4 separate regions of the Homo sapiens genome follow, and all the other regions are reported to be linked to region 3. The links are microRNA targets in miRTarBase. Many come from high-throughput screens and were not tested one by one. Region 3 holds a microRNA gene; each other region holds the end of a gene's coding sequence.
The links. Region 3 holds the annotated microRNA hsa-miR-6729-3p (UCAUCCCCCUCGCCCUCUCAG, at 4,354-4,374, shown strand). A microRNA usually pairs through its seed, bases 2 to 8, with sites in the 3' UTR of a target mRNA and lowers its output. Matches are read on the target gene's strand: a 7mer-m8 pairs with bases 2 to 8, a 7mer-A1 pairs with bases 2 to 7 and ends in A, and an 8mer does both.

Region 1 (7,116 bases), not on the chromosome of region 3:
ATCTCCTGACCTCATGATCCACCCGCCTCGGCCTCCCAAAGTGCTGGGATTACAGGCGTGAGCCACCGCGCCCGGCCCCCTAATTTTTGTATTTCTTAGTAGAGACGGGGTTTCGCCATGTTGGTCAGGCTGGTCTTGAGCGCCTGACCTCAGGTGATCCACCCGCCTCTGTGCCTGGCCCCCCAGCTCTTTTCTGAGGAACTCTTCTGTTGGAGTGATGAGCTGGCGTGCCTTTCAGGGCATGTAATGGGCTGATGGAAAAGGGCAAGACCTGAGTGGGAATGGCAGGTTGGCTATGGTGTCAGGGCCAGCAGACTCCTAGCTCTGCCTCTGGCGTCCTCATGCCATTCTGGGCAGGATGGGCAGGTGGGTAGCAGAAGGCAGGGAAGCCCACACTTAGAAATGTCCCAAGGAAGCCGGGCACAGTGGCTCACGCCTGTAATCCCAGCACTTTGGTAGGCCGAGGTGGACAGATCATCTGAGGTCGGGAGTTCGAGACCAGCCTGACCAACGTGAAGAAAACCCATCTTTACTAAAAATACAAAATAAGCTAGACATGGTGGCACATGCCTGTAATGCCAGCCACTTGGGAGGCTGAGGCAGGAGAATCGCTTGAACCGGGAGACAGAGATTGCAGTGAGCCGAGAGCCATTGCACTCCAGCCTGGGCAATAAGAGTGAAACTCCATCTCAAGAAAAAGAAAATGTCCAGAGGACCCCCCATCGTATGCCTCACAGCCTGGGATGAGAGGACACTGGCTTCTGGATCCCCCTGGCCACTGGAGCGGCCAGCGTGTTTCACCCATTAGCTCTTGCCCTTTGAAGTGGGGAAGCTGAGGCCTAGAAAGGGAAGGGTCTTGGCCAAGCTCCCAGCTTGGTGTGTGGGACACCTGCTTCCCAGGCCTGGCCCAGAGGAGGAGGGGTAGTGGAGACTGCCCACCCCCAACCCCTCCATGCAGTAGAGAGATGACAGGAAGGAGAAGCTGGGTGTGGTGGCTCACGCCTGTAATCCCAGCACTTTTGGAGGCCGAGCGGGAGAACTGCTTGAGTCCAGGAGTTTGAGACTAGCCTGGGCAACATGGCGAAAACCCATCTCTACAGAAAATACAAAAATTAGCCGGGCATGGTGGTGCACCCCTGTAGTCCCAGCTACTCAGGAGGCTGAGGTGGTAGGATCACCTGAACCCGAAAGGTGGAAGCTGCAGTGAGCCAAGATTGCACCACTGCACTCCAGCCTTGGTGACAGAGCCAGACCCTTCCCCCCAACCCCCAACCAAAAAAAAAAAAATGTCAGGAAGGAGAATGAGGTAACCCAATATGAGACCCTCCCAGGATTCCAGAGCCTGCAGCGCAGAAGCTGGTTTCCACCCTGGACCAGAAGATGGTGCTACTCGCTCACAGGTCAATGCAGGTGTCAGCTGCTGCCTCACTGGAGTTTTTTTTTGGTTTTGTTTTTGTCTGTTCTCGGGGGCGGGAGAAAGAGATGGGTTAGGAAGTTGTAGGAACCCACCTCTTGGAAGGCCTTGGGTTTCCCCACTTCTTTCCTAACCTCACCCCAGGCCTGAAGTTGGCCTCTTTCCACCATGGTCCTCCAACCTCTTCCCAGGCCAGTGCCTAGGAGGGATCCACTCCCACAGGAGCCCCAAGCAGAAAGAACCCCTAAAGTAACTGCTGGATCTTTTCCGGGTCCTGTAGCCTTGAGAAAATCTGATTAAAAGATGTGTCCTCTTGTTTCCTTACTTATGGAAAAAGAAAAAAGAAAAGATGTGTCCTGTCAGGCACATTGGCGTGAGCCTGTAGTCCCAGTTATTCTGGAGGCTGACTGGGAAGGGCTACGTGAGCCCAGGAGTTTGGGGCTGCAGTGAGCTATGACGGTGCCTGTGAATAGACACTGCATGCCAGCCTGGGCAACATAATAAGTCCCTGTCTCTAAAACAAAAATATCAAAAATAATTTGTTGGCTGGGCGCGGTGGCTCACGCTCGTAAACCCAGCACTTTGGGAGGCCGAGGCGGGTGTATAATTTGAGGTCAAGAGTTAGAGACCAGCCTGGTCAACATGGTGAAACCCTGGCTCTACTAAAAATACAAAAATTAGCCAGGCGTGGTGGCACGCGCCTGTAATTCCAGGTATTCGGGAGGCTGAGGCAGGAGAATCACTTGAACCCAGGAGGCAAAGGTTGCAGTGAGCCGAGATTGAGCCACTGCACTCCAGCCTGGGTGACAGAGAGAGACTCCATCTCAGGGGAAAAAAAAAAAATTGTAAAAAAAAATGTTTTTTCTTTCAAGAGCATACAAGTGTCCCTATCATATAATTCCACACCCTTTCAAGGAGCTCGTGACCCACACCCTTACCACGTAAAGAATCCCTGAGCAAACCCAATGCTTGATTTTCTAGAGGAGGAAACAGAGACCCAGAGGAGCCAGTGACTCTTCTGCTGTGCTCAGCAGTGCGGCAAACAGGCCGGGGGTGGGGGGGCTAGGCTGGCTACTGGCTGGTGGCAGACACAAGTGGGGTGTGCAGAACCTCAGTGCTGCACGAACACTGGCGCCTGACTCTGATTCCCAGGCTGCAGTCTCCCGACGTGGGAGGGTGTGATTCAGATTGGGGTGCAGCAGAGGCACTGAGCACAGCTGCTACTGCAGGGCTGTGAGCTGGAGAAGAGGGTACAGAGGGGCCTGGCCTCCTTCCAGTACTGCCTCTGAGGCTACGGCAGGGCTAACCTAGGCTGGCTTCCTGCAAAGCACAGGGAGGCTGAGGCTGCCTTCCTTGCACTCCTCAGCAGGTGCCCCCACCTGCCCAGGCATTGGGTGGACAGCGGGTAAGAATGGGGGTGAAGAAGGTTGAAGGGGCCAAAGGAAGCAGTGCTGGCAAAATGAGTAGGGTTGCACCGAGGGGCTCATTCTCTCTTCTCCCCACCTCCAGCATCCATCTCTCCAGACTCCCTCCTCTTTCTGCATCTCCCTGAAGTCCAGGGAACCTTCATCCCACACAGTACAAGCCAGGTGAAGCTCAGCTTCTGTGTAGGGGGGCATGAAGGGCACATGTGGGTCAGAGACAACAGAGCCAAATGGTGGGATTTGGGATCACCAGTAGCTTCCTAGGCACCCTTTGCCCCAGACCAGTAGTGTTGCTGGTCCGTCCACCCCCAGAGTGGGCACAGAGGAGGGCAAAGGCTACAGTGGGGCACCAACTGTTCCCAGGCCCTAGGCTGTGAGCATGCTGCATGGGGTTCAGCCACCCAAAAAAGCTGCTGTGCTCAGCAGTGCGGCAAATAGGCTGGAGGGGGATGGGCGTCCAGGCCAGCTGCCGGCTGGTGGCAGACACACAGCTGGGTGTGCATAAGGCGTGGCTGCAAGGCTCTCAGGCTCTTGATCCCTGGAGCCTCTGGCCCAGCGTCTCAGGGTGTCTCTGTCTCCATTTTGTTAGTTTAAGGCATTGAGGAAGCCAGGGCAGGGGAGGGAAAGAGCTGAAAGGAGAAGAAAAAGCCGCGGTTTCCAAGACTGGCTTGATCACTCATTTTGCTGTGTGACCCTGGACAAGTCATTAGCCCACTCCAGGCCTCAGTTTCCCCATGTATAAAGAGGGCAGTGTTGAGCTGGGTAATCTGTGTGACCTTAGATAAGCCACCTAACCTGGCTGTGCCTCAGTTCTTCCCTGTGAGAGGAGGACACCCCCACTCGCCTCACAGGATCCTGGAAAGGATTAAGTAACATCAAGTTCCTGGCACGGTTCCCTGGGCACAGTAGGTGCCTATTTATGAGTTCCCTCTCTTTAAGCATTCACACTGGTCTTGTGACCCCTTCTTCCACTCCCAGGGCTGGGGATCCTAGGAGGGGGAGGGTCACCCTCCTTTCCCGGCTCTCTCGACCCCCAACCTCCAGGGCCTTCCTCAAGTCAAGGAGCCCAAAGAAAGCTCAAGGAGGGGACCCAAGGTCTGGGCCCACCTGGCCTACCTGGCTCAGGGGGCGGGGGCTGTAAACCGGAACCGGTGGAGGAGGGGGCGCTCATCAGGAAAGGCAGCCCCCACTCTGCATCCGGGCAGCGCCAGCAGTGCCCCAGCACCCCCGCAGCCCGCCTCTCCTTGGCGCCCCGCTCCCCTCCGCCTATAAATAGCACAGGACGTGCTCGCCGTGGCGATGACGCGGCTGGGCAGGCGGAGGGGAAGGAGGCAGCTCTGCCAGAGCGGTGGGCGGCGAGCGCGGCGGCGGGAGGGGTGCGGCCCCTCCATGCTGGGCTCCGATGACAGGGGCGACTGAGTCATCCCGGGGACCCACGGGCCACGACTGTCCCCGCCGCCAGCGTTTCTGTCTCCGGCTTGGGGGACTGCGGGGACGAGGCTGACCTCGGATGGGTACTGAGCCCTCCCAGACCCCCGGCACGCCCGGTCTCGGAGGGCACCTCTGGGTGGGCAAGATCGGCCTCGACGGCCCTGGCGCGCAGGAGCATGTCCGCCCCTGCGCGACTCAGGTGCACATGGAGGCGGAAAGTGACCGCAGCCCCAAGCCGTTTCCCTCCAGCGTCCCCAGACCTCCTCCCACTTTCCTCAGGTCCCCTTTTGGCTCTCCCCAGACCCCACCCTCCTCGGGCTGCTGGAGGAAAGGGATGAGGCCTGGGACCCCTGCCATGTTGCCGCCTGCCCAGCACCCCTCCTTTCAGAGACGGAGGAATTCTTCCACCCTCAGCCTTGCCCCTCTCAGCATCCCCAGACCCCACTCCCCACTTCCCTGCCCCTTTCCTTCCTCTGTCCCAGTGAGAGACACAGAGCAGATGGGCTGGGACAAGAAACATTTAATTAGGGGTCTGGGGAATCAGCAAGGCCCCAGACCCATCATGCAGCCTCATGTACAGTGGGCATTGGGCCCGCCCCTGGGATATTGCTGGGGGGGGGGGCCTCATGGCAGCAAACAGGGCAGTGTGGCTTGAGACCCCGCTTTGTGGGGGAGAAGTGGGGCAGGGGCCTTTGGGTACGAGGGTCTGTGTTTCTCCCACTGCATGGGAGGGTGTAACTGTGCCCAGGATGGGGGTGGCATGGGCTGGCACAATCAAGGGCATAAGAGGAGGATCTGAGCTTGGGGGAGGGAGGTTGGCACCGAGAAAAGCAGCTGTATTAAGAGAGGGGTCCTCTCTGTGTATGCCCACCCCACCCCATTTCCTGGTGGCCAAAACAGAACATTCCACCTTCCTTGTCTGTCTTCCACCCCCTCTTTTTCCCAGGGCTCTGTGTCCAGAACAAGGGAGCAGATAAAGCCAGCAAAGGGGCTCCTGCAGCACCTGCCCTGTCCCCTGCAGAGCCTGGAGAGAAGCAGGAGAAAGGTCAGCCCAGAGGGTTGGGTTCCTGGGGCGGCCGGGCAAAGCCTGGGACAGGAACTGACAGTCACAGGCTCCCCTGGCGGGTGGTTCCTGTGTGACCGGGGGTCCTGACAGTGAAATGGGTTTGCTTTGACCAAGCACGGGCCAGGATTTTGTTCTCAGTTGGGTTTCCGTGTGTCCAGGCAGCTCTTGGGTTTCCTTTTCTTTCTTTCTTTTTTTTTTTTTGAGACGGAGTCTCGCTCTGTTGCCCAGGCTGGGGTGCAATGGTGCAATCTCGGCTCACTGAAACCTCCGCCTCCCGGGTTCAAGTGATTCTCTTGCCTCAGCCTCTGGAGTAGCTGGCATTACAGGCAGACCCCCATCATGCCTGGCTAAGTTTCGTACTTTTAGTAGAGACGGGGTTTCACCATGTTGGCCAGGCTGGTCTTGAACTCCTGACCTCAGGTGATCTGCCCACCTCAGCCTCCCAAAGTGCTGGGATTACAGGCATGAGCCACCACACCTGGCCAGCTCTTGGGTTTTCTACTTGAACAGATAGTCTCTGATTTGTTACACCTTCCAGGGACCTCAGCCTTCCCCTCATCTGTCCGCCCAGGTTTCAAGTAACGGGAGAGATTCCTGCAAAACTTTCCTGAGAATTGACGGAATGACAGAGGTGGAGACCAGGAGGTGGACTCAGGACCTTCCTATGGTCCTGGGTCCCCTCCCCACCAAGGGTGGAGGGCCGAGGACACAAAAAGGCCTGCTCCCAAGACCCCACTTGCAAAGGAGCAGATGCACGGTCACACACACATAGACCCAAGCAGAGGCTCTGTGGGGAGAGGGGTGTGCCAGGCATGCGCAGGTGGTGTGGGCAGGGGAAGGCTGGGAGAAGCAGCAAATAAATTCCCCAGGAATCTTCCCCAGGGCTGGACTCAGCCCAGCAAGTAGACTGGGGTGCCTGGGCGTTGGGTGGACCTACCTGTAGCTTCCTCATTCCCTCCCACCCCACCCCATCCCCGCCAAGTCCCAGAGGATCAACCCACTCAGGGCACCCCACCCAAGAAATAAAATCTTCCCCAGTACAAAAGGCTCCTAAGCCACGGTAAGTGGCACCTAGGAGAGGGACAGAGGGAGGAAGGGTATGGAGTGGACAAGGGGGCCTGATCCCCTCCCTGGCCAGAAGCAAGGTCCAGGCATGGGCAAGGGTGTCATCTGGGTTCCCTTGGCTCCTCTCAGATCTCAGTCAGGGCGTCGACTGGCACCAGGCCCCGCTTCTTGCCACTGCTGACGCGGATGAAGCCGTCAGCATCCTTGCTTCTGCCCACGCCCACGCAGATCTGAGCCAGAGAGACATGGAGCTGAGGCCTGGCATGGCCTGCAGCCCTGGCCCTGAGTCCTGCCCATGGCCCCCAGGGGACCCACCCTGGGGGATGATGGGACCAGTGTCAGATGTGGATGGAGCCCTTTGCTGGAGTGATGGGACCAGATCCCAGGAGTGTAGAGGCCTCAGCAGCAAGACCAGCACGTCAGCAGACACCCAGCAGCACTTCAGGGCTGACCTTGGAGATTAGCCGCTGTACTGCCCTGCCTCACCCCCATCACAGAGGAGGTGGAGGGAAAAGGACTTGCCTCAAATTACACAAAAAGCCAGAGCTAGCATTCAAACCTGAGCTTTAGACTCTGAATCCAGTGCTCCTGCGCTAACCCAAGCTCCCTCTAATGTCATTCAGTCTCCTGTCTCTGTTGGTCACCAGCCCAAATTCCCCAGCAGGGGCTGGTAGGAGGGCCCTGCAACCCTTTCTTTCTAACCCGCTTTCCCCTCA
Region 2 (7,116 bases), not on the chromosome of region 3:
TCATCTTTATAAATATCTAATTAACTTATGCTGGTATATCATCAGACAAAAAAGCTGTCAGTGCTTTCTTTATGTTATTTAAATAAGGATTGGATATGCATAACTCACTGATTCATATATATTTACTTGTTATTTTTATTTAATTATAGGACTAATCTTTAGTCTTTAAATTTTTAATTTATTTTTATTTTTATTTTTTGTTTTTGAAACGGTGTTATTGTCACCCAGGCCATCATGGCTCACTGCAACCTTAACCTTCTAGGCTCAAACAGCCCTCCCACCTCAGCCTCCCCAGTAACTGAGGCAGTCCTCCCACTTCGGCCTCCCAGAGTGCTGGGATTACAGGCATGGGCCACCGCTCGTGGCCCCCAAATTGTTTGTATTCTTTTATTTTTTTTTTTTTTTTGGCCAGGCGCAGTGGCTCACGCCTGTAATCCCAGCACTTTGGGAGGCCAAGGCGGGCAGATCACGAGGTCAAGAGATTGAGACCATCCTGGCCAACATGGTGAAACGCTGTCTCTGCTAAAAATACAAAAATTAGTTGGGCATGGTGGTGCGCGCCTGTAGTCCTAGCTACTTGGGAGGCTAAGGCAGGAGAATTGCTTGAACCTGGGAAGTGGAGGTTGCAGTGAGCTGAGATCACGCCACTGCACTCCAGCCTGGCAAAAGAGTGAGACTCTGTCTCAAAAAAAATTTATTATTATTATTTTTTTATTTTTTTTAGGATATGGGGTCTCACTATGTTGCCTAGGCTGGATTCAAACTCCTGGGCTCAAGCAATCCTTCTGCCTCAGTCTCCTGAGTAGCTGTGACTACAGATGTGCACCACCATGCCCAGCTTTTATATTATTTTTAAAAATGTCTATACACGTATTCTCTTCATGAAGATGCCTTTTAGGAATTAAAATTTCTGATCATATACCTGAATGAGACCACTCTTCTGGCAGTCTCTCTGTATTAGTCTGTTTCCCTATTAAATATTTTTCTTCATTTTCTCCCAAGGGAGGTTTCTCTTGTAGCCGTGTAGTCAGTGGGATGAAATACTATGAGATAATTACTTGAAATGATTTTCATATCCCCCAATCTAGAGCCTAGATAAGCCCAATAACTTAGTAATTTTTTTTTAAATTAGAAAATTGTAATTTTTTTGTCAAAGTAATTCTTGCACATGTTGAAAGCTGAGTTGTTCAGAAGGCTTCTCTATGCCATCGCACCACCTTCATTAGTGGTAGCTCTGTGCCTCTCAGTAATGGCCTTAAACCACTCTTTGTTGATTCATTGACTTTAGATATTAACTGTTGATGTCCTGCAAAGACAGATGGGGACTTGGCTCATTTTCACCACCCACCGCACCTCTCACGCCTTCTTCACTGTTTTTGTACTCCTACTTATAATTTTATTACTTTTTTTTTTTTTTTAAGAGATGGGGTCTCACCAGCTTGCCCAGGCTGGTGTCAAACTCCTGGGCTCAAATGATCCTCCCACCCCAGCCTCCCAAACTGTTGGGATTACAGGTGTCAGCCACTGCACCCAGACTGTAATTTTAAGTTAATACCTGCATGTCTCCACCCTTGCTCTTTCCATTTTCAGCAGCCTCTCGCCCCTTTGTAAGATAAGATGTTGCTGCCTGTCTCCTTCACGCTACCTTTTCTCTCACATTGTCCAGTTATAACATAGCTGTTGCATAACTGGCATCAGTTATCTGTGCTAAGCATCAACTCTAATTATTGAAAACCAGGAGACCTGTTGGCATTAGAGTGACTCTTTACAGGGCCAAGAGGATGCCCTAAGGACATCTCCTGTCTCTTTCCTCCAACATCATAAACCTGTGCCCCTGGAGGAACACATTTCTAGAGTCAAACTTGAGTGGAATTCTCTGCACTCTATTTCACTGGCTCAAAATCATGGCATTTTAAAATTGACTTCGTTGTTAATCCTATCTACCTAGAAAATATGTTTTTAACACTTTACTTGGCTTGCTAATTTCATCCTTCTTTCTTTACCATCTATTCACTCAGAGTCAGTAACTACAACACAAATGTACTGAGCACCTTCAACATCCAGGCCCTGAGCTGAATGCTGGGGAAGGAGTGGGAAGCAGGATGTGGTCCCTGCTGTTTGTAGGCTGCAGGGCAGAAGCTTGCATCCAAGGGTCCTGAGTGTATCCTAGAGATGCGACCAGTTCACAGTTGGATTTTAAAGTGGCGTCCTATACATAGCTCATGAGGGTTGGGAGATGAGGATTCATGAACAGATTTAGACACTGAGTGATTAATGACAATATGAAATTATGGATTTTTATAGACTTGACAATGTGCTTGTTTAACCATTGAGGCCTTCTCTTCTGCCTCTACCCACCACTTACAGGACTTCAAGAAAATGAATCAAGCACATTAAAAAGCAGCTTAGTAACTGTGACTGATTGGAGCGACACTTCAGATGTCTAATTCCACATGTCAGAAGATTATTCCAGAAGCCAGCAGTATTTCAGTATCACAGTGTTTCAGTAATTTGCCTCCATGATTCTAGTGCTTCTGCCTTACCGTGTTTCCCACAGCAACACAGAGACTGATTCAAAGAACAATGGTCTCTTTAATGGCACCCAATACAGTATTGAAAATCAGATCATCAACAGTATTTCGAAGCATGTAAAGGTGTTTAAGACTTCCGCTGCTGCTTAAAAATAACATGTCATTGAAGTCATAAAAAGTTTTTTCTTCAGAAAGGTACTCTAGTGTTAAGTGTATTTTTTTCAACTAATTTTTTAGTGAATTTTTTTTAAACTTACAGCATGTTTTGGTTTGAATTACTAAAACTTTAAAAAATATTTTTCTTATGTATGCTGTCGTATCGTAGGCGTTTATATTATAAAATTCTGTTAGTAGTCTTAAAATTGAATTGGTGGAACCACTAATCCTTAAAAGTTAGTCTGGTTATTTTTCATATAGAAGTAAGTTTAATCCGAGTGTGGTGGTGTTCACCTTTAATCCCAGCTACTTGGGAGGCTGAGGTGGGAGGATAACTTGAGCACAGGAGTTCAAGACCAGCGTGGGCAATATAGCAAGACTCCACCCCTCCACACCCCAAAAAAGTAAGTTTAGGATTAGAATATAGCTAGGTCCAATGTTAAATACATTTTCCTGGAGTACATTTGTCACATTCAGCTTTGAGCCACTGTAAGCATGTTACTATTAAATGGTTGGTTATTTTATATAGCATATTCTTTATCTTGGATATTTTATGAATAAAGTATAGTTATTTTAAGTGCCAATTAATTTATCAGACTAAATAGAAAATATTTGAGCCATTACTGAATTCACATATGTATGTTTTTTTTTACTATTTAAAATACCCAACATGTATTATGAAATACCTCAAAAGTAATTTAGTTACATTCTTAAACAATGACATTGTCGAAAGAAAGTTCTTATAAGCTGTTTTTTGCATTTTTATAACTTGGTTATACTATATTCTGTTTCCAAGTAACCTTTTAACTAAAAGATTTGTTGGGTTTTAGATCTCTTTTCATTTGTCAACCTTTTCAGTAAAGCCCTCTGTTACATCACTGTGACTGTGGCTGTGTTATTAGAGATGAATTCTGAGTTAAATTTGTACTTATTAGGGGTCTTACAGAGGGAGAATCTGGCCTTGATTGCTATGCCATATGACATTCTGTCCTAATGGTTAGAACAAATCTTTATCTGTTTCCACCCACCCTGGGATCCTTTTTACTTGTAGCCCATTCCTGCCCTCTAAAAGAATCCTTCCAACTTCCTATAGGGGCCATTTCATGCAGATATACTCACTTTATATGTATGTTTCTAAAAGCTTTAGTGAAGGCTGAATCCAAGTTTCATGTAGTAGGACAGAGAACAGAAGGCCGAATCCAAGTTTCATGTGGTAGGACAGAGAACGGCAATCTACAAAACTACACCAAGCCTAAGATGGCCCATGTGCCACTTTGTTCATTCATTTATTTATTCAGCAGATATTTATTGAACCACTTGGTCTGGTTTGGTTTTGAACACGCACTAATTCATTTAATTACAACAACTTTGCGATGTAGTTATTGTTATAATCCTCATCCTAAAGGTGTGAGAAACAGAGTTATTAAGTAAGTTGCCAGAAGCCATACAAGTACAAAGTGTCAAGGGGAGACTTTAAGCCAGGTCTCTATTCCATGTTTTGTGTCTGCCATGTTTTCATTCCTGAGCAGAAGAGCTTGGGGAAATGAACTTTTGCTAAGTAAACCCAGTATTTAAATTAAGTCACTATATCTGTGTCTTTTAAGAGCCCCTCCTTTAGCTTACATGGTTAGTTGTATCTTTTTTTTTTTTTTTTTTTGAGACAGAGTCTCACTATGTTGCCCAGGCTTGAGCGCAGTGGCACCATCTCGGCTCACTACAACCTCCGCCTCCCAGATTCAAGCGATTTTCCTGCCTCAGCCTCCCAAGTAGCTGGGATTACAGGTGCCCACCACCATGCCTGGCTTAATTTTTTGTATTTTTAGTAGAGATGAGGTTTCACCATGTTGGCCAGACTGGTCTCGAACTCCTGACCTCAAATGATCCGCTGTCTTGTCCTCCCAAAGTGCTGGGATTATAGGCGTGAGCCATCGCGCCCTGCTGCATTTCATTTTTTTGTATAAAATTTGGTTTGTTCGTTTTTGAGGGGAACCATTCCTTTATGTTGCCCCTTACTGATGCCCAACTAATGTGTTTCTGGTTACTAACAGACCTTCATCCCCCACCCTCCCTAAATTCTTCGGTGTAATCTAAGCGTTATCTGCACCACTTCTGAATAATAAATGTGTTTGAAATGCACACCTACACAACCCTGTCCCACACTGGCCTGTAGGACCTAATCTACCTTCATGTCTTTCAGTTGATTTGTATTTCTGCAAAAGATATTTCAAGGATTATCAAGGTATGGAATTTTTTTTATTTTTTATCTTTTAACAAACTTGTTCATTTCCTTTTCTTTCCATTGAGCACCTCTGAACAATGTGATTCTTTTTTTTAAGTCTTTCACACTTCAGGAAAATACTACATTCACCCACGTTGTGATTCATATCGGACAGTTTCTTACTCAAAGATAACACAAATACCAATTCTTATTCATACTTTGAAACTATATTTTACCCTAGACTGCCTTGGTTCAAAGGCCTAGTTTCGACATTACTGTGGCAAATTATTTAAGCTCTCTGTTTTCATTTCTTTTTCTGTAAATGCAGGATGAAAACAATATGTATCTCCTAGGATGGCTGTGAGGAGTGAGTGAGACAGGACATGAAAGGTGTGTATGAACTGTGATAACTGTTGCCCTTGTGGGCATGTTATATAGGGCTGGCTCTAGGAAGAAGCCTGTGTCTTTTTTCAGAAATCCCTGGAGCAACTTAAATGTCTTTAGAAATGACAAGTCTCTCAGTTATCCAGTTAGCCGTAAACAGGTTCTGGAAGACACACCTAGATAGAACTCGGCCCGTCAGTTCTGAGTGAGGCACGTACCACTTGGGCTTGGGATGTCCTTAACCCATTTATGCCTGAGGTTGCAATTTTTTGAATTTTTCCAATCACACCTTGGCGATGACCTTGAGCAGTAGGATATAAATAACTCCCACATGCTTAGTGTTCCAATAATGGAACACTAGGCATAAACAGGTTTTAATTGGCTCCTCAGTCAACCATGACCAATATCTCTATCTCAGCTTCTGCTGATGCCCTAGCTCAGGGCTCTGCATTCCGTGCCAGGGACGCCTCAGCCCCTTAACATGGATGTGCCACATGACAGGCAATAATATATTGGCCCCATTAGCCCTTCCTGGAGCAGTCATAATGAATTACAGTCATGACAGGCACATGTAAGAAACCAAAATTTGCTAAATATGTACATGAGTCTTCATCACAGCATCGTTTATGAAAACAACTAAATATTCACTAATGGTGCCAGTGGAATAAATCAGAGAACATCCCCTGCTACGTAACTCTCTGCATACATCAAAGAGAATGGTGTGGCTTTGCTTTTTCAACAATCTACTGAGTGGCCATGGGCATGTGGATATGGCCATGAATGAGCAAGATCCTCTCTGATCCTGTAGAAGTTAAGTTCTACCAGATAACTTGCTGCTTCAACAAAAAGATTTACCTTTTTAAATAAATGTTGTAGAATACTTAAAAAAAACAAACTAGAATTTGCCTGTGTGCAGCCAGTAACATGTCTATTTAACCTGGACACCTTTTGAGGAATATTCTCAGATTGCCCCCATGCTGTTTATAAGACATTGTTCCTTATACACCTGTTTATGAATGAAAAGAAACATAAGGAGTGGGTACAAAGACTTCTATCTATGAATGATTAAAAAGGCTAGAGTACGAATACTTCTTGAACCTTTGGTACTAAATGCTTTTCATGTTCTATATAAATGTAGAAAACATTTTACAAATCCTGTAAATAAACTGTTTATTTTTTATAGAAAGCCACAACAGAAAATGATTAGTATATAACTAACTATGTAAGAACACTTACATCCATACAATCAACAGATGCTTCAAATGCATATTTTAAAAATAGTTTTGAGTGTTAATTATGGGAGGGCCTTGATGGGATCATTTTGTGAACAGTTCGCTTTTATAACAAACTCAAGAGGCAGCTTGCCAGCGAGCTCTTTTAGACATAAGCATTTTTATCAAACTGTTTTGAAGGGTTTGTTGTTTTAAAATCTTCTCCACCATGATACTTTGTCCGAGAAGACATGACAGATGTGGCCCCGTTGTATGTGTATCTGAAAGGTAAAACATAGTTTGGTAGATTCTATTCTACACATAGGGCAAACAAAAATGGGAAGAAACTGTTTCGGCCTGTCTCTGCCAATATCTAAATGTAAATCTTCCTCTTTCTTAGATAGCTTTCTTCTCTCCTCTTGCCCCAAGAAGTATTTTCAGTGTCATTTCTGAGTGGGATGGAGAATCTCTGCAGAAGAAACTCATGACTTGGTCATTTGTTCAGTTATCCTCTTACAAAACCATGTTTTAAAACTCACCCTCCTGGAAGCTAGGAGACTTAGTAGAGGCCATCAACATTCCTGCCTACCTAGAGGAAAATTATGATGAGGCCAAC
Region 3 (7,116 bases):
CCCCCTCCCTCCAGCCCTGGACAGTCACCATTCTACTTTCTGTCCCTATGAATTTGACTCCTCTAGGGACCTCATATAAGTGAAATCATATAGCCTTTGTTCTTTTGTACTGGCTTATTTTATTTAACATAACGGCCTCAAGATTTATTCATGTTGTACTGTGTGTCAGAATTCCCTTCCTTTTTTTTTTTGTTTTTTGTTTTTTGTTGTTGTTTTTTTTGTTTGTTTTGAGAGAGAGTCGCACTGTGTCTCCCAGGCTGGAGTGCAGTGGTGTGATCTCGGCTCACTGCAACCTTCACCTCCCGGGTTCGAGTGGTTCTTGTGCCTCAGCCTCCCGAGTAGCAGGTATTACAGGTGTGCGCCACCACACCCAGCTAATTTTTGCATTTTTAGTAGAGATGGGGTTTCACTGTGTTGGCCAGGCTGGTCTCGAACTCCTGCACTCAAGTGATTCTCCTGCCTCGGCCTCCCAAAGTGCTGGGATTACAGGTGTGAGCCGCTGTGCCTGGCTGGAATTCCCTTCCTTTTTAAGGCTGAGTGACATTCTGTTGTGTGTAGATGCCACATGTTGTTTATCTGTTCATTCAGGGATGGACACTTGGGTGCTTTCCATCTCTTGACTGTTGGGAATAATGCTGCTGGTGACATGGTTGTGCACTGTCACTTTTGACATAGCAGCCAGAGGGAATTTTTAAACATGGGAATCAGATCATGTCACTCCCCTACTCAAACCTCCCCATGGGCTTTTCCCAGCACTTACTGTAAAATCCAAAATCCCTATCTAGACTTACGAGGCATGATCTGGCCTCTACTGGCCCCATGATGTGACCTCCCGTCTTTCTTCCAGCCTCGCGGCCTCCTCCTTTTTTATTTTTATTTGTTTTCTCTGTTGCCCAGAGTCAAGTCCAGTGGTGTTATTTCTGCTCATTGCAACCTCCGCTTCCTTGGTTCAAGCAATTCTTCCTCAGCCTCCCAGGTAGCTGGGATTACAGACGTCCACTACCATGCTTGGCTTATTTTTGTATTTTTAGTAGAGACGGGGTTTCACCATGTTGGCCAGGCTGGTCTCGAACTCCTGACCTCAGGTGATCTGCCCGCCTTGGCCTCCCAAAGTGCTGGGATTACACACATAATGGGGTGGCCACAGGCATGGCAGGACCAGAAAGGAGGCCACGACCAGGCATGGTGGCTCACGCCTGTAATCCCAGCAATTTGGGAGGCCGAGGTGGGCGAATCACTTGAGGTCAGGAGTTCGAGACCAGCCTGAGCATCGTGGTGAAACTCTGTCTCTACTAAAAATACAAAAATTAGCCAGGTGTGGTGGCGGGCACCTATAATCCCAGCTACTCAGGACGCTGAGGCAGGAGAATCATTTGAATCCAGGAAGTGGAGGCTGCAGTGAGCAGAGATCAAGCCACTGCACTCTAACCCGGGCGACAAAGTGAGATTCTGTCTCAAAAAACAAAGACAGGTGTACTGTGGAGTTGCTGAGAGCAACTGGTGGCGGGGACACAGGCCCTGCCCTTGAGTACTTCTTGAACTCTCAGCTCACTGCCCTCCTTCCTGGTTCTGGGAAAATGGAAGCGCCTGTCCCAGTACCTGCTCTTGGTCCATGCGCTCTGCTCCCCTGCCTTTGCCGAGGTGACTGTCCATGCTGCCACCTGGACCCTGGCCCTGCTCCAGCGTGCTCCGCCCCTCTGCTTCTGGCTCCTCCAGGGTTTCCTTCCTGTGATCCTCTCCCTCTCTGTCCTGCATCCTCATCCTGCCCCTTAGCATGAGCATGAACGTGCAGGAAGCATTCTGGGAGCTGGTTGTATCTCATGCTCCCTGCACCAGGCACCGCTCCGAGCTGTGCTTCCTGTTCCTCCCGCTGACTCCTTTGCCCTTCATGATAAGCTTATTAGGTAGGCACCACCATGGTGCCCATTCACAGATGGGAAGGCTGAGGCCCGGTGAGACAGAATCTTACCAGCAGCTCACATCCAGTCGGGGTAAAGCCGCTGTCTGTTATTTCTCATCCCGATGCCACATTCCTACCTTTAGCCCACATTTGCTTCCAGTGACTGCCTGTTTTCTCGATAACAAAACTTCCTCTTCAAAAGGGCTGTCTAGCCTCGTTGCCTTCAATTTCTCTCCACTACTATTCCTTTTCTTTTTCTTTTTTTTTTTTTTTTTGAGATGGAGTCTCGTTCTTTCACCCAGGCTGGAGTGCAGTGGAGCAGTGATCTCAGCTCACTGCAACCTCCGCCTCCCAGGTTCAAGTGATTCTCCTGTCTCAGCCACCTAAGTAGCTGGGATTACAGGCATGCACCACTACACTCAGCTCATTTTTGTATTTTTAGCCAGAGACAGGGTTTCGCCATCTTGGCCAGTCTGGTCTGGAACTCCCGATGTCAAGTGATCTGCCCGCCTTGGCCTCCCAAAGTGCTGGGATTATAGGCATGAGCCACTGTGTCCAGCCTCCACTACTATTTCTTAAATCGGGCTTCAGCTCCCAGCATTTCATCAACATGGCCCTCAGTTGGGTCATCAGTGGCCTCCGTGGTGCCAACTCCCCAGCTTAGCCCTCATCCACATCTTCCTTTGAGTAGCAGGGGACACAGTGGTCACTCCTGAAGCACTTTCTCCCCTGGACTTCCAGCCACTTGCTTCCCGGTTCTCCCCCATCTCTGTTGGTGCTCCTTCCCAGGCTTCTGGGGAAGGAAAGGTCCTTGTTCTGACTGCTACACCCCTAGGCCTGGGACTCGGTCTTCTGACTCCTCCTCTCTATCTTCCCTCTATGATCTCCCAAACGCTGAGGTGTTTGGACACTTTCTCTACTTCTCCATTTGTATCTCTAGCCCGCACCTCTCCTCCGAATTCCAGACTTGTATATCCCACTGTCTTCTCCACATCACCATGAAGTTATTAACCTTCTGTCCGAAATCAAGGTCCTGATTTCCACTGCTGTGCTCCTCCTGCAGTCTTTCCTGTCTCCATAAATGGCAACTCCAAATACTAAATAGGTCAGGCCATAAACTTGCTGGATTTACCATCCAGCTACATCCTGATACACCCAACATAAGTTGAAAATACTGTTTAGGCCGGGTGCGGTGGCTCACGCCTGTAATCCCAGCACTTTGGGAGGCCGAGGCAGGTGGATCAGGCCAGGAGTTTGAGAACAGCCTGGCCAAGATGGTGAAACCCCGTCTCTACTAAAAATACAAAAATTAGCTGGGTGTGGTGGCGCACGCCTGTAATTCCAGCTCTGTAGGTGGCTGAGACATGAGAATCGCTTGAACCTGGGAGGCAGAGGTTGCAGTGAGCCGAGGTCGCTCCACTGCACTGCACCCTGGGCAACACGGTGAGATTCTGTCTCAAAAAATAAAAAAAGAAACATCCTAAGTCGAATCATGGTAAGTTGGGGGCTGCCCCTACCTCTCCCCAGCTGAATCCTAACCGATGCCTCTGCTTCCCCTCAACTTGAAGCAGCCAGAGGAGGAGTTCTGTAAAAATATGTGGCTGATGTGGTTGTGTCCCTCCCATTCCCCAGACCCTCCCTGGGCTTCTTAACCTCATCTCCTCCACCCTCGCTGCCTTCCTGCCACTTTCCCCTCCTGGCTGTTCCTCAGCTGAACCATGCACATGCCCACCCCGGGGCCTTTGCGCTTGCTCTTTCATCTCCCTGCGATGTCCTTCCTGGGAGGTCTCTGTGGCTTCTCCATGTCTCTGCTCAGGGTCATCTCACTCGGAGAGGCCTTCCCTGGTATGGCTGCCCGGCCATACTAGGCTCTGACGCTGCTCTCTTGCTTTCTGGCAGGTATCAGCATTCAGTCTTGTATCACGGGTTTTTTTTTTTTTGGTGGCTAGTTCATCTCTTGCCACCTTACAGTGTAAGCCTCATTAAGGCCAGGGGCTTTGTCTGTCTAGTTCCTGGCACATGAAACAGCATCTAGCCCTGTCATAAGGGCTCTGTCGATATTTTTTCCATGGATGGTTGGCTATGCATCAGGGTAGACAGACACTGAAACCAACCAACAGTCCCAGTGACTGGAGGGGCCCTCCTGGCCTGTTTGAGGCACAGTAGGGATGAAGCAGGTGGCCTGGGGTGCCAGGGCTGATCGTCTCTCCAAGCCTTGGCCGGTGGCCACACAGCAGCCCCCAGCCCCTCTCCCGTCAGCTGCCTGGTGCTTTGCCCACACCAGGGTCTCTGGACACCAGCTCTTCCATCACCAGCCAGCCTGAGGCCTTCTTCTCCAAGCTGCAGGAGTTTCGGGAAACCAACAAGGAGGAGTGTATCTGCAGCCATCCTGAGTGAGCAGGGGCGGGCGAGGGTGGGCGAGGGCGGCTGAGCGGCTCCATCCCCCGGCCTGCTCATCCCCCTCGCCCTCTCAGACCCCAGTTGCCAGGCCTGCGTGAGAGCAGTGGCAGCGGCGTGGAGGAAGACCATGAATGTGAGTGCGGGCCCTCGGCTAGGCCGCTGAGTAGTCCAGCCTCGCGCTGCCCTGGCCTCCCCTGCCCCAGAGCAGTCCCATTTGAGGTTTGGGGCCTGGGGAGGCCCCTGAGATGTTGAGACTCATGGAGGGAGGCCTGCAGTCTGGACAGGGTGGCCAAGCCCTGGTAGGGGTGGAGTGAGCTAAGGCCTGGCCACCGAATTAGGGGCTGCCCTGTGTGGCACCATCCCACCCTCCCCAGCAGTGCCCCTGTGCTGGTGGGACTCCATCCCAGCTCCTGAGGGCCCCAGGAGGATGTCCCTCCCCACCCCTTAGGGCGTGGGCCCCAGGTTCTGGGAGGAAAGGGGTTAGGAGGAAATGGGCCGAAGGGCTTCCCAGAGGGATTGGCAGCTTGTGTGGTTGGGGGCCGCTGAGGGCAGCACGGAGCCTGGGGACCTGGGTTCCTGGCTCAGGGAGAGCTGTGGCTTCTCATGGGCCTCGCAGGCGTGTACTGTTACCGTGTCAACCGGCGCCTGTTCCCGGTGCCTGTGGATCCCGGTACCCCCTGCCGCCTGTGCAGGACACCGCGAGACCAGCAGGGCCCTGGGACCCTGGCGCAGCCAGCGCACGTCAGGTGAGTGACCAGAGTATTGGGACACCTTGGGGGACAGAGCCTGAACCACTGGTTTTAAGAAAAGATGGGCCTGGGCGTGGGCCCCCAACCGCTGGGAGGCTCCTCAGGGGTCCCCCACTGCCCCCCTGCGCAGGGTGAGCATCCCGCTGTCGATCCTGGAGCCCCCGCACCGGTACCACATCCACCGGCGAAAGAGCTTTGACGCCTCTGACACACTGGCCCTGCCCCGGGTGAGCAGCCACGTGGGGCTGGATGGTGATGAGGGCGGGGCTGGCTCAGACTGGCCCAGATCCCCAGGGAGGGTCACAGAGCGAGACTGGGCTCGACAAGGGTGAGCGCCCAAGTCTCTGGAGCACAGCCTGGGCCTCTTCCATCACCCACACCTGTACCTAAGGGAGGTAGGACCCCCGCTCCACGTACCCCGGTGCTTCCAGGGTGATCTGCCTGCAGGCTGGCATGACATGAATGGGTCCTGTTTATTGCGCTTTTGTGTACTGCAGGCACAGTCCTTAGGGGGCTTATCTCATGGAGCCCCCACAGCAGCCAGGAGTGTAGGCACTGCTGTACCCCCACCCTGCAGGTGGGGAGACCGAAGCAGAGGGGGAGGCGCCTTGGTGGAGGAGCTGGGATTCGAACCTAGGTCTCTGTGCTGCTGCTGCTGCTTTTTTTTTTTTTTTTTTTTTTTGAGACCGAGTTTTGTTCTTACTGCCCAGGCTGGAGTGCATTGGCATGGTCTCAGCTCACTGCAGCCTCCACTGTAGTCCCAGCTACTTGGGAGGCTGAGGTGGGAGGATCGCTTGAACCTGGGAGGCAGAGGCTGCAGTGAGCTGAGATCTCGCCACTGCACTGCAGCCTGGGTGACAGAGTGAGACTCCATCTCAAAAAAAAAAAAAATGTCCTTTCCTGTGTCTCCAGGTCGGGATGGGGTGCCAGTGGCAACTCCCCCTGACTCCTAAATTGAGAGTAGGGCAGCTGGGGTCAGAGGAGGAGAAGGATGCAGAGGAAAGTCAGTTTGCTGGTCCGTAAAATGGACATAACAGCGCCATCCTCAGGGATGTTGGTGGTGAGGTGGGGCTGTTGAGTGAAGCAATCCATGCAGGTGCTTGGAGAGCCTACAGCAGGAAGTACCCTGTGAATGTCACTGTCACCGTCCTATCCTCCTCCCATTTCAGCTCTCAGGGCCCCAGGGATGGCTGGATCTGCCAGGATAAGAAAGGGGAGAGCTGGGGTAGTCTTGTGGGTAGACACAGGCCCTGCCTTGGTGGGGGCCTCCTTCCTAATGGGGGGCACAGTTCCTCCCTGATGGGGGTGTGCCCAGTCAGCGGGGAGCTTGTCCCAGGTCAGGCACTTTTAACTCCTTGCCTTCCACAGCACTGCCTGCTGGGCTGGGACATTTTTCCTCCGAAGTCTGAGAAAAGCTCAGCCCCCAGGAACCTGGACCTCTGGTCCTCTGTCTCCGCTGAGGCCCAGCACCAGAAGCTGTCCGGCACCAGCAGCCCTTTTCACCCGGTACGGTCCAGATCGCATCCTAGCCTGGGGTGCCCCCTAGAGGGACAGAGACCTCGCAGCAGGCCTGGGGACTGCAGAGCCTCCTGGGGGGTAGGATTGAGGTGGGGAGGATGGAGCCTGGGAGTGTCTCTCTGCAGGGTCCAGCCCTCCAGCCCTGACCCTAGCCATCCCTCGGAACTCCTCTGCTCCCTGCCGCCTGCCCTGCTCCACCCAGGAAGGCCACCCTGACTGCAAGATCCAGGAGGGAATGTGGCTGGAACTGGGGATGACCTGTCCCTTTCAAGTGGCCCCCCTGAGACTTCCCTATTCCCCATCCAGGCCTCACCAATGCAGATGCTGCCCCCGACCCCGACCTGGTCAGTGCCCCAGGTCCCTCGGCCCCACGTCCCACGGCAGAAGCCCTGAGGACTGACTCCTGGGGGAGAACAGCATTCCCGCCGCCTCCAGCCTCTCCCCTCTGGCAGGCGCACCCAGGAGATGGAATCCCCTGCCCGCCCAGCTCAGGCCCAGCTGTCCTAGGTTGGGCAGGTGGGTGGACCCAAGCTTGTCTGCTGCCTGAGT
Region 4 (7,116 bases), not on the chromosome of region 3:
ATAGTTTTGCATGTTTATCTGTTAAATATATATATATTTAAAAAGCAATTGGACTGTCAGTTGGACTGTCGATAGCTTTGGAGGCAGGGAAAAGTTAGAGGAAGTAAGGGAGAACGGGTTAGGCGGGGTTTTTCTCTCTGGGACTTACAGTGCATCTAAAGGGTTCTCACAGAGCCGCCGCTATCAGTGTTTCCAGTAGACCCTAACGGAGGTGTCGCCATGACTCTCTTTCTCGCTCTTTCTTTCTCAGGAGTACTTCTTGCAAGCAGAGCTGACAAGCAACGTCTTAAAAACAGGCGTGGTGCGCTGCTGCGTGGGACAGTGCAACAATGCCATCCCTGTTGACACCGTCCTTACCATGAAGAAGCTGCCCATCACCTATGTACGTCTGCTGTCTGTGGAACTTAATTCAGCCATTTGCATTTTTTGCTTGTGAGCTCTGTGCTTATCTGGGTTGTAGGTGAGGAGATAAGAGAGAGCTGTGTGATCCTTTATTAGGGGCTTTTCATATGAGAGGCACAAGAGGTGTGTGGTCTGTCCCAGGGTCAGAGGTCAGGGCACGTGATGCTGCCTGGCTGTGCTGAAGCCGCAGGTCTGGGAGGCTGGGTTGTGATACACGCTTAGAGAGAGAGCTGTTCCCTGGGGTCCCAGCGCAGCTTTTCTTGGTTCTTTATCTTGACTGGATAAATGACTGTTTCTGAGCTCAGGGAATTTGGGGGTGTTGAGGCCACCTAGTTGGTGGTGCTGTGGGAGGTGTTACTCTGAGGATGTGCACCCCTCTGAAAACATCAGAATCCAAATGCGTTGTCCCTGGGCAGCTGTGATGATAACTCCATGCTTTTTGCTGGAAAATCCATGTTCTTTGGTTGTTCCCCTTAGCTCTCTCTCTTGTCCATCACCACAGAGCAACAGGAAGGAAAACAAGGGGGGCTACCTCTGCCACTCCTGTGCGGAGCAGCGCATCGGGCCCCTGGCGTTCCTGACAGCCTCCCCGGAGCAGGTGCGCGCCATGGAGCGCACTGTGGAGAACATCGTACTGCCCCGGCATGAGGCCCTGCTCTTCCTCGTCTTCTGAGGACAAGGCGCACGTTCTCCGCAGTGCAGAGCAGCTTGCCGAGGACCCCGCGTGAAGAAAGCCAGCGAGGGGGGCTTCTGCTCCCTGAGACTCTGGGTTCACCCACAGCACTTTCTGAGGAAGAGGACACCAGCCCAAGCTGGACCTGCCATTTCTCCACTCCCTACAGACAGCCAGTCTCCACTTGCCTCCCCTCTGGATGTATCTGGTCAGGGAAGTGGGGGATGTTCTTTTGATAAAAAAAAAAAAAAAAATTTATGTATTTAAACTTTTATTACAAGATTTCAATTAAACAGGCACCATAGCACTGGCATACCGCTGTGTGATGTCTGCGTCAGCACTGTCGTTCTGAACCTTCTCTTTTTCCAGCTTACTCTTTCCTACAGCACTGTCACTGTTCACAAGACACAGGAAGCAGAGTATGAGACGTGATGTCTTGGGTGGGAACTGAGGCATCAAAAATGAGACTTTGGCCGGGAGCAGTGGCTCACACCTGTAACCCCAGCACTGAATCCAGCCAAGGCAGGAGGACTGCTGGAGCCCAAGGTTGAGGCTGTGAGCCGTGGTCACCTCACAGCTCACTGTACTCCAGCCTGGGTGACAGCGGGACACTGTCTCAAATAACAATAATGTTTTAAGGAGGTCAGATAAATTACAAGGCTAACAGGATCATAATCTCAGCAAGAAATGACCCCAGATGGGCTGGACCACAGCGCCTGTGGGGCCTGGTGAGGAGGGAACGGATGCGAAGATCAGTGGTTCTCAAAGTGTGGTTCCAGCAAGCAGCGGCAACATCACCTGGGAACTTGTTAGAAATAAAAATGTTCAGTCCCCACACCAGGCCTACAGGATCAGAAACTCCAGGGTTGAGGCCCAGCTGTTCGTACATAACAAGCCTGACAAGTGATGCTCATGCATGCTAAGTTGGGAAACTTCTGCTCTTGATGTTTAGAAGGTAGAATCGGTCGGATTTCTGGAGTACTGGGATCATGATAGGGACACTCAGTGGTAGAGGTCATCTTCACTGAGACAGGGAAAATGGGAGCTATAGCAGGTTTGTGTAAACGCAGTGATCAGTTTGGTTTTCAGCATGTTGAGTGGAACCGTCTAGGAGGCTGTTGGGTGAACACATCTGTCCTGCAGCAAAGGGCCTGGCTGGACCTGGGGACTTTATAGAGTTGTCGGTGTGTAGGTGGTGGTGCAGTTTGAAGGGTTTCGCCGAGTTAATCCAGGAGAGTTTAGACAATGAGAAGAGCAGAGGGCCGAGAAGCAAAGCCGGCGGACACGAGGCTTGGGGTGAAGAGAGGAAGAGGGTTTAAGAAGAGCGACAGCTGATCCAGAGGAGCCTCGTGATGGAGCACCACTGAGCTCCGGAGAGGAGGGAGTTCAGGAAAAGGGGATCTTCAGCATCCAGTGCAGTAAATAGACCAAATAAACAAGGGTGGGCAGGTGTTTAACCAGCACTATCAAGGTCAGTTGACATTAGCTGATCAGTTTCAGTTAGGTGAGAAGCCGACCACTGTGGCCTAAAATGTGAGTGAAAAATTTGAGGGCTAAGAAGTATGTGTTCATTTATGGTTTCTTTCTGAAGCCATACTGTAAGGGCAGTAAAAGTTGTGTGTGTGTGTATGTGTGTGTGTGTTTTAACCCTTAAGGGCAAAGACAACAGGAAGGAGGCAGCAGTGATCCTGGAGGCATCAGGATCATCAAACATCTGAAGATGACCCGGCCCCTAAGATGAAGGCTAGAGGTCAAAACCAAAGAATCAACTTGGAGCAAACTGTCTGTACAGGGAGAAGAAAACATCTAAATATCTTTAACACATTCAGAGAATGGAGGAGGTAGTGCATTCCATAGAGTAGCAGGATAGATATGTATAAAATAATATTTGGGGCCGGGCGCATTGGCTCACGCCTGTAATCCCAGCACTTTGGGAGGCTGAGGCGGGTGGATCATCTGAGATCAGGATTTCGAGACCAGCCTGGGCCAACATGGTGAAACCCTGTACTAAAAATACAAAAATTAGCCGGGTGTAGTGGTATGTGCCTGTAATCCCAGCTACTCAGGAGGCTGAGGCAGGAGGATCTCTTGAACCTGGGACGCAGAGTAAGACTTCGTCTCAAAAAATAAAAATAAAATAAAATTTTGGAGCAAAAAATATGAAAAGAAACCCAGTAGAACTGTTAAAATAATAAGTTGAGAATCTAGAAAGTAGAGCAAAAACAAAGATTGAGAAGTAGTTAGAGGCTGGACGTGGTGGCTCATGCCTGTAATCCCAGCACTTTGGAAGGCTGAGTCAGGTGGATCGCTTTGAGCTCAGGACTTCAAGACCAGCCTGGCCAACATGGCAAAACCCATCTACAAAAAATGACCTGGGTGTGGTGGTGCACGATTGTGATCCCAGCTACTCAGGAGGCTGAGGCTGGAGAATGGCTTGAGCCCGGGAGGTGGAGGTTGCAGTGAGCTGAGATTGTGCCACCACACTCCAGCCTGGGTGACACAGCGAGAGCCTGTCTCAAAAAAAAAAAAAAAAGAAAAAAAAAACTAGGGAACCAATTTAAGAAGTTGAGCATCTGTGAATGGGAATTGCAGGAAGAGAAAATGGACAACAGAGTTAAGGAATTTTTAAATTTAATTTTTTTTCAGACGGAGTCTCTCTCTGCTGCCCAGGCTGGAGTGCAGTGACTTGATCTCGGCTCACTGCAACCTCCACCTCCTGGGTTCAAGCGATTCTCATGCCTCAGCCTCTTGAGTAGCTGGGACTACAGGCACATGCCACCATGCCCGGCTAATTTTTTGTATTTTTAGTAGAGATGGGGTTTCACTGTGTTGGCCAGGATGGTCTCGATTTTCTGACCTCGTGATCTGCCCACCTCGGCCTCCCAAAGTGCTGGGATTACAGGCGTGAGCCACCGCACCTGGCCGAAACATTTTTTTTAATTATGAAAATTACCTGAAACTGATGGTAAGGGTTTCTGGATTGAAATGACTCATTAAATGCCCAGGACAATGGGTGAAAATAGGCCCACATTGGCCGGGCGTGGTGGCTCACACCTGTGATCACAGCACTTTGGGAAGCTGAGGTGGGAGGATTGTTTGAGCCCAGGAGTTCAAGACCAACCTGGGCCACATAGGCAGACCCCATCTCTACAAAAAGTATAAAAAATTAGGTGTGGTGGCGCATGCCTTGTTCCCAGCTACTTGGGAGGCTGGGGCAGGAGGATGGCTTGAGCCTGGGAGGTTGAGGCTGCTGTGAGCCATGATTGCACCACTGACCACCACAGCCTGGGTGACAGAGCGCAGGACGTAGCCTGGGGGGAAAAAGGCAATGATTAGTCCTCTGGAAGGCGACAGGTTGTGTAGGAGAGAACTGTAATTGACCCCCCCCACCACCAGCTCAGTGGAGTGTACCTGCTTTCATGGCCTTCATAAGGGTGGGCGTGTTCTGCAGGTAGGAGCTGTGTGCACATGTGGAGTGAACGAGCCGAATCTTAGCCTCTGCGGCAGGAAGTCAGTCACAGTGCCTGAAACTCAAACATGGAAGCAGAAGCCCATGTGAGCCCATCATTTAGAGATATCTTGGAGATGCATAACACACACCGAGACACTCAGCAGAAAGATTTCTAAAAGTTTCCTTTTGGGAGGGGGAACGGGCAGGTGGAGGAGCTTTTTGGTAGGTGTCTTACATAACTGTTGGCTCTAAACTATGTGTCTGTATGATAGAACCATAAAATACCAGTGGGAGGTGAAGATACGGACACCACGTAGACTAGTTCTCAGAAAGCAAGGCTGGCAAGAGGCAAGAAGTGGATAGGGGATGACGTGGCCTTAGGGAGGGGTTTTTGCTTTTAAAACGAGAGAGGTTTGTGCAGGGTTATGTGTTGAGAGGAAGCAAATTCAGAGAGGAGAGATGGAAGCCAGATGAGAGGGATTGGGACGGGAGAGATGAAGGAGAAAGGGGTACGTTGTAAGTGGTTAGGGAGGAAGTTTAGGTTGCTCTCACCCAATAATTTTCTGGTTTTTTTGAGACAGGGTCTTACTCTGTCACTCAGGCTGGAGTGCAGTGGTGCAGTGACAGTTCACTGTAGCCTTGACCTCCAGGCCCAGGTGACCCTCCCACCTCAGCCCCTCAAGTAGCTGGGACTACAGGTGCATGCCACCATGCCCGGCTAATTTTTGCTTATTTTTTGTAGAGATGAGGTGTCGCTCTGTTGCCCAGGCTGGTCTGAAACTCCTGGGCTCAAGCTGTCCACCTGCCTCAGTCTCCCAAAGTGCTGGGTTTAGCGTTTGGGATGGACATAGAAGGGAATGGAGTGGAAGGTGACGGAAAACACAGGTGTGCCGGGCAGCACCCTCCCAGTTGACATCAAACACCATCCTTTTAGCTGGTATTTTTCCTTTAGCAGCCCAGGCATGAGGGCAGAGACGTCGCATGGTGGACTCAGACACAGCTTAATAAACTTAAGGCAGTGCAGCACCCCCGTGGGACCTTCCTGCCTGGGAAGCTGGTCACTGTCACGCTGCCTGCCCAGCTTCCGTCCTGTAGTGGCATTTGGTCTGTGTCTGGGAGCAACTCACTGTATCACAAAGGGACTTTGACACCCCTAGAATCAGACTATTAGCAATTTAACATGTTTTTCAAGTCTGATCCTTGCCCTTCAGTCCTTCCTAGTCACCCTGAACCCCTGGCTTTAGCAATGTGGGGTACACCGAGAGCCTGGAAGCTGATCACTCTACATTTGCAGTGAGTGGGTGCGGTAGAGACGTCTGAACCGAGGCAGGCAGGGTTCCTCCAGCTCCTTGCCCAGACATGAAGACAGTGCTACACGCACGCCCCTGGCCAAGGCACCTCTGCACAGCTGGGCTGGTGTGGGGGGCAGGGCTCCCTTAGCCGGCAGGGGCTCTCCCTCTGCCTGGCCTACTTAAGGGACAGGTTCTCCATGAGGGCCCAGGAGGTGCCGTCCCCTGCGATCCTCCTCACTGGGGACCTGTGTGTGTTTTATCCCTAGTGGCGTGGGCTGAGAGGTAGGTTAGGTGGAGGGAGGGGGGCTTCCCACTCAAACGCCAAGGTCGCCAGTCGATCACTCCATTTGCTGTCTTCGTGACATCTCAGCCCTGCCATGTCCCACATGCAGCCCCTGATTTCCTTCCGAGCCTGGCTGGCTCCTCCACGCACCCTTCCCCACCTCCAGAAACAGCACCACCATCGGGCTGTGATACTTTTCTTCATGCCAGTTCACTGGGAAGCTCCACGCGGCCTCCAGGGTGCACCACCCACCCGCCCGCGACCCTCCACCGTTCTGCCTCCTGGACCAGTTGTAGTCTATGTTGCTCTGTGCCTCTGCCCTGGCCCAACTCGCTCCCATGTAGAGGGACCTGCAATCTTACAATGAAGACTAACGCCGGTCACCCTCCTGCCTCAACCCTGCAGGGCTCTCCTGTTGCGATGAGGGCGTCAGCCCAAGTTGGACCGCAGCGGAAAGGCTGGCGTTTCCTGTCCATTTCCAGGCTGGCCTCTGTCACCCTAAGCCTGTCTTTTAAAGGAACTCACTGAGGGCCCCAGGAAGCGGCCAGCACAGTGCTGACATCCTGGATTTTTCTTTTCTTCCTTTTTTAAATGTACAATTCAGTGGTTCTGATTTTTTTTTCTTTTCTTTTTTTTTTTTTTTTTTGAGACAGAGCCTCACTCTGTCACCCAGCCTGGAGTGCAGTGGTGAGATCTCCGCTCACTGCAACCTCTGCCTCCCGGGTTCAAGCGATTCTCCTGTCTCAGCCTCCCAAGTAGCTGGAATTACAAGCATATGTGACCACAACCAGCTAATTTTTGTATTTTTGGTAGAGACGGGGTTTCACCATGTCGGCCAGGCTGGTCTTGAACTCCTGACCTCAGGTGATCCACCTGCCTCAGCCTCCCAAAGTGCTGGGATTACAGGCGTGAGCCACTATGCCTGGCCTGAATTTTTTATTTTTTTTAAAGTAATCATTTTCCTAATACATGTCTTCCTAATCTGGACCCCACAGATTAAGAAATGCTTTAGTTT

Region 1: miRTarBase lists STAC2 as a target of hsa-miR-6729-3p. Seed matches in the 3' UTR shown: 7mer-m8 at 6,305-6,311.
Region 2: miRTarBase lists CLDN10 as a target of hsa-miR-6729-3p. Seed matches in the 3' UTR shown: 7mer-m8 at 5,967-5,973.
Region 4: the mRNA of FBH1 is a reported target of hsa-miR-6729-3p. Seed matches in the 3' UTR shown: 7mer-m8 at 1,296-1,302.

The regions. Positions count from the first base shown.
Region 1 is chr17:39,205,767-39,212,882 of GRCh38, forward strand. It overlaps STAC2 (SH3 and cysteine rich domain 2), which reads right to left. Exons shown (of 11, transcript NM_198993.5): 11 at 4,775-6,630. The coding sequence ends at 6,526. Among named protein-coding and RNA genes, the nearest start is that of RPL19, 9.0 kb to the left of the region's middle. RefSeq lists enhancers at 1,426-1,685, 3,355-3,444, 3,465-3,594, 3,473-4,139, 4,140-4,806 and a silencer at 4,066-4,175.
Region 2 is chr13:95,577,565-95,584,680 of GRCh38, reverse strand. CLDN10 (claudin 10) reads right to left here. Exons shown (of 5, transcript NM_006984.5): 5 at 4,922-6,781. The coding sequence ends at 6,667. DZIP1 (DAZ interacting zinc finger protein 1) reads left to right here. Exons shown (of 23, transcript NM_198968.4): 23 at 2,368-6,479. The coding sequence ends at 2,447. Among named protein-coding and RNA genes, the nearest start is that of CLDN10, 28 kb to the right of the region's middle.
Region 3 is chr1:12,024,849-12,031,964 of GRCh38, forward strand. MIR6729 (microRNA 6729) reads left to right here and starts at 4,310; the gene lies at 4,310-4,374. It overlaps MIIP (migration and invasion inhibitory protein), which reads left to right. Exons shown (of 10, transcript NM_021933.4): 5 at 4,185-4,293; 6 at 4,375-4,433; 7 at 4,917-5,046; 8 at 5,180-5,276; 9 at 6,418-6,555; 10 at 6,874-7,116. The coding sequence ends at 6,960.
Region 4 is chr10:5,936,206-5,943,321 of GRCh38, forward strand. It overlaps FBH1 (F-box DNA helicase 1), which reads left to right. Exons shown (of 21, transcript NM_178150.3): 20 at 251-382; 21 at 905-1,388. The coding sequence ends at 1,075. It overlaps LOC105376384 (a long non-coding RNA gene), which reads right to left. Exons shown (of 2, transcript NR_188180.1): 2 at 846-1,304. Among named protein-coding and RNA genes, the nearest start is that of IL15RA, 38 kb to the right of the region's middle.